2 separate regions of the Homo sapiens genome follow, and region 2 is linked to region 1. Evidence: fine-mapped expression QTL. Tissue or cell type: whole blood. Region 1 holds a variant in brackets; the other region holds the start of a gene. All regions are shown on one strand. Distances are from middle to middle.

Region 1 (2,756 bases):
AGCAGACTCTTCCTGTTCCTTTCTCTACCACCCTTGCCTTCCCAGGACTGCACGGTTTAACACAGCAGAGTACAGAAGGGTGAAGAAGTGAGCAGAGGCTTATGAAGATATTCAGATACTCTTCTATGCCAGGAAGCACAAAGACTTTGTTGAGATTTGCCTCAGTTCAGTAGATCTTCCTTGGCAGCCAGCCATAGGTTGTTTCTTTGTCTTCCGGGTCCTAAAGAGCACAGAGAAAATGGAGGTCCCCAGTCTAGGTAGGAAGCTGATTGGATGAGGACTTCTTTTTTTCCGACAGCAGGATGGGGCTCTTGGGCTCCACACACCAGATGCTTTGGTTTTCTACAACTGTTGCTATGTGTAGAGGGTGCTCAGAGCGTGGCATGAGAGCAAGGAGACCATGGCTACTCTTTGAAATGGATGGGGAAAATTAGCTTAAAAATTTAATCACGAGATTGCGCCACTGCACTCCAGCCTGGGCGACAGAGCCAGACTCCGTCTCAAAAAAAAAAAAAAAAAAAAAATTTAATCACACACATCACAGGCTTAAACTGTCTTAGAGACCTTTCCAGTTGATTGGATCACAGGCTAGGGATCTGTGCATGGTGCCAGGTGAAACCCAAGTCTCCCCAGTGCTAGGTGAGGGAGGGCTCAACGGGGGTAATGTGTATGGGGTCTGCTGTCCTTTGCCATCCCCTGGACCATATTAACTCTGGGACAGACCATGATTAGGTCTGTCACCAAACTTTTCCTAATCATTTTTTATGTATCATTCTTCTTTCTAATCTGTTAGCAGTTATCTCCCAGAAGTATCCCTAGCATCCTGAAGCAAACAGAACTGCCGGGCGCTGTGGCTTATGCCTGTAATCTCAGCAATTTGGGAGGCCGAGGCGGGCGGATCACCTGAGGTCAGAAGTTCGAGACCAGCCTGTCCAACATGGTGAAACCCCGTCTCCACTAAAAACACAAAAATTATCTGGGCGTGGTGGCATGTGCCTGTAGTCCCAGCTACTGGGGAGGCTGAGGCAGGAGAATCGCTTGAATCCAGGAGGTGGAGGTTGCAGTGAGTGGAGATGGCGCCACTGCGCTCCAGCCC[G/A]GGTGACAGAGTGAAACTCCATCTCAGAAAACAAACAAACCAAACAACTGAGAGAGGGCATGCTAGTGGAGGGAAAAGGAGAGAGTACAAGAGTTGATACTGCATCAGAGTTCCAGGGCAGATACTGACAAGTGACTGAACTTTGACTGTGAAGTCTTCCCATTTATTTTTGAAATGGGAGTCGATGCCTTTTGTACGTTATCAAAGTGTTTTTTTTTTTTTCCTCCTTTACTCAGACATAGAGCATCAAAATATCACGAGTAAAGCCAAACCCCAGCTTTTCACTGGGGCTGATATCTTCCTCCCCATGGCCCACTGCCCCCTCATATTCCCCAGCACTTGGACTGTGTCACATGGGTATTGATTGTATACTTGTTGTCTTGGCCTCATGCAAAAAGGCCTGGGTCTAGATCTAGTCAGATGAGTTTTTTTTAGAGCATGTTGATGATACAACACCTGTTTAAATGTCTGCCTTATATGTTATTTGGTCCCACTGTTAATAATAGATTTATTACTATGTATATTTACTATTGAAGATGGGAATGTGATCTGCATAGTTATCAGTCTATTTTGTATGTTGTAAAAAGCTTCTAATTTAGGTTTAAGGTGGGCTGGCTACAAGAGCACTAAAACTCCTCACCTTTTAAACTGCTCTTTTTATCTGCTTGTGGGAATGTCGTCTCTTTCGTGGAAGATTGGGTGGTCTCATGTTGAGGCTGTTGCCCAGTCCCATTAACTCCCTTGTCCCCCCACAGAAGGAAGAGACATTGCCCAGCTAAGCATCAGGAAGCTGTGTTAAAAGCCCTTCTATGGGTTTGGTTTTGTGATGTTTTTCCCTAATGGGAAAAACGTTATAGTTGTTTCTTACTGCCCTGTCTGGGAAGCAGGGCAAACCTCCAGGTTTTTAAATGAGCTAGATGCCCCTCTTCCTCTTCTCTGGTCACTGAACCTGGACCAAAGCACTTTGATATTCCAGGTGTGATTTTCTCTGTCATGGGGATTTGCTCCACTGCAGAGCCCCATCATTTTCACAGCGTAGGCCAACAGAGTGAGAACCTAGGGCTACCCTAGCTGATGGATGTGAGGCTGCTGTCTACAGGAGCTCATCCCAGCCCTGTTAACTGGCAGTGGCAAGGATACTCGTCATCGGCCATTGCACTGGGGAACTCCCTCACCCCATGGCTTCCCAACTTGAAACCCAGATTTACCTCCAGGGAGAGGTGAGAAAAAAATTGTAAATAGACTTGCTAAAGAGCAACTCAGGGTTGGGGTGTGTTTTAATTCTCCTGATCACTTGAAATAATCTGTAGGCTGAGTGCTTATGGGGGTGGGGGAGAAGGGTGACTCCAGGGTCCTTCCATTTTGTGAAGCTCTGGGGGTGGAGTGTGGGCATCTGAGGCCCTATGATGGCACTACATTGAGCTGTCTGCCCTTCCGGAAACCCAACCTGCAATCAACTGCAAATCAAATTCTTCACATTCCAGCTACAGTCTTTCTTTCCCCATTGAATCTCAGTCCCTGGCCATGTGGTCAAGGTGGCTTTCTGTTAAGCTACCCTAATTTCGGGAATGGGAGGGGAGAGAGGAGGGCCATTACAACTCTGCCTTCAAGACTCATCTCTTAAAAACAAAACGAAACAAAACTACAACCACCATCAAAA
Region 2 (2,628 bases), 61 kb before region 1:
CATCCTTCAAGGCCCAGCTCCAAACCATTTAGGAAACCTCCTTCCATTCTTTAGCAGGAATTAATTGCTCCCTTGTCTGACGTCCCACAGCACTAATCACACGCTGACTTGTATCTCAGCTAGCTGTTTATGCCAGTCTGCCCACCAACGTAGTGAGTTCCCTGAGGGCAGAGGCTCTGTCTTAGTCACCTCTGTAGCCATCTCCTGGTGTTTAGCAGGTACTCAATGTGACATTTACTTGACTAGTGGGTGGTGCCTAGTACTACTCATGGCAGAATAGAAGGAAAACAAAAATAATAACAACTTATGCTCTATCACGTTTTCCCATTCATTAACTGATTTCAGCTTTGCAACAACTCTATGAGACAGACGGGACAGGCACTATTAGACCCATTTTACAGATAGGGTAGCTAAGGCCCAATGGCACACAGCTTGTAAGTAATGGGGACTAAGTCCCAATCTTGCCCCCTTACTTCGGATTCTGTGCTGGGAATGGAATTAAACCAAGAGTATTTTGAAGCTATAATGGAAAGCGCTTTTCTGGGTGGACTAGGGAGAGATACTTAGTCAGCTGTCAGGGTTTAACAGCAGCTCCATCAAAGAGGGCACAGGATTTCTCTCTCTGGCCCAAGCAGCTGGAGGGGTCCACAGCACCATCCTATAGCCCTGGAAGCTGGAGGAAACCCCAGCCCGAGAAAGAAGAGACGGTGTTCGAGTCAGGTGGGTAAGATGACGTAAATGATGACTTGTGAGCAGTGGCCTGCCTCTGTTGCCATGACAACCGGAGCTTGACTACTTGGCCTTTGCAAGGTTGGCCGAGGCGGGTTCTTCGTTAACTCGAGATTAAGGAAGGATATTTAGGGGGGAGGGTGTGTGTGTGTGCGGCGGATTAAAGACGAAAGGAGTATATTCAACAATGACTGTTTAGCTCAGTGGTTCTCCACCTTGGCAACACGTTAGAATCACCTGCAACAATTTCCTGATGCCTAGGCTGCACCCCAGAATTAAATTATAATTTCCAGGGGTGGGAACCAGGCATCATAGTATTTAAATCTTGCCAGGTGATTCCAATTGCAGCTAAAGTTGCAAACCCAGCTTTTAGCTGGTAAGCGGAATTCCTGTGACCTTCCTAAGATGGCGTCCACTCAACCGCTTCCGCCTTTACGTGGGCCGGCAGGGGGCGGGCTTCCCAGGGGCGCATGCGTCTCGCATCTCTCCGCTCCCTGCTCTCTCCTCCTTTTTCCCCCGCCTCCATTTTGTTCGCGGACGCTGGGGACGGTGGGAGCAGATCCATTTCCGGGTTGGCAAAAGGGGCGGTGGCGGCGGCGGCGGCGGCGGCGGCGGCGGCGACGGCGAGAAAGAGCTTGCCGGGGGGCGAGCAGGACAGGACGAAGCCGGAGTGTAGGCGGCAGAGGATTCGCTCCCAGAGCAGCTGCGGCCAGGTCGGAAAGAGGCCGGGGCGGCTGGGTCAGTCGCTGAAATGACCTGCGGACCTGAGTGGGAGGGAAAGTCGCGGGGAGGGGGGCTCGGGGCGGGGCTTGAGAAGAGAGGGGGGCATTAGAGGAGGGGCCGGAGGGGGAGAGGGGTCTTGCGGGTGGGGCCTGAGGGGCGGGGGGCCGGGGGACTGTATCGGAAGAACCTGGAGGAGAGAGGGCGTGGGGAATCTGGGGAGGAGTGGTCGAATATTGGTATGGGGCGAGCGGGGACTGGAAAAATGGGGAGGAACGTTTTTGAGAGACAGGCAATAAGGGCTCCTGAAGGGTTGGGTGAGTTAAGGCGGCAACTCTGTGAGGAACGAGGTAATCGTGCGCAAAAAGGGAGACGGGAACGGAGGACCTGTTGGGAACGGCTAATTAGCAGGATGCTGTGGGTGAGGAGTCCAGTGTGACATTTTGGGGATTGAGTTAGGTGAAAGCTAGTGTTTGGGAAGATGGCTCGGGAAACTGCTTACACTAGAGGGAATCTTGAGAGCGTTCTTTGAAAAGGAATCAGAATTTAGTTAAAGGTTGGATTGAGAATGTTAAGATGCGCATTGGAACGTCTGGAGTTGAGGGTTCATGTTGAAGTGGTGTGAAGTGAGGGAAGATGGAATTTTTTTTTTTTTGTTTTAAAGGTGGGGTCTGGCTATGTTGCTCAGACTAGTCTTGAACTCCTGGGCTCAAGCGATCTTCCCACCTTGGACTCCCAGAGTGCTGGGATTACAGGTGTGAGCCACTGCACCCGGCCAAGATGGAAATGTTAAAGTGTTCAGCATGGCAGTGTGTATGGTCGAGTTTTTTATCAGGAAGGAAAGTTCTTAAAAATAGCATTGAGGCAAGGAACTGATATGTGATGGAATTCTTTTTTCTTTTTTTTTCTTTTAAGAGACGTGGTCTCACTCTGTCGCCCGGGCTGGAGTGCAGTGGCATGATCATGGCTCCTTAAAGCCTCGACCTCCCGGGCTGAAGTGGTCCTTCCACCTAAGCCCCGCCAATAGCTGGGACCACAGGTGTGACCACTACTCCCGCCTAACGTGTGTGTGTGTATATATATATATATATATATATATATATATATATATATATATATGTATATATATATATTTTTTTGTTGTTGTTGTTGGAGACAGAGTCTTGCCCTGTTGTCCAG

Evidence for each region. PIP is the estimated chance that this variant, and not a neighbour inherited with it, causes the effect.
Region 2: WIPF2 starts here. The variant in region 1 is fine-mapped to the expression of WIPF2 in whole blood (INTERVAL, PIP 0.99).

The regions. Positions count from the first base shown.
Region 1 is chr17:40,279,348-40,282,103 of GRCh38, forward strand. WIPF2 (WAS/WASL interacting protein family member 2) reads left to right here. Exons shown (of 8, transcript NM_133264.5): 8 at 1-2,756. Among named protein-coding and RNA genes, the nearest start is that of CDC6, 7.2 kb to the right of the region's middle. RefSeq lists enhancers at 1,699-2,635, 2,636-2,756. The variant G/A (reference allele first, on the strand shown) is at 1,097.
Region 2 is chr17:40,218,051-40,220,678 of GRCh38, forward strand. It overlaps WIPF2 (WAS/WASL interacting protein family member 2), which reads left to right and starts at 1,254. Exons shown (of 8, transcript NM_133264.5): 1 at 1,254-1,442. RefSeq lists enhancers at 595-644, 1,085-1,194, 1,095-1,873.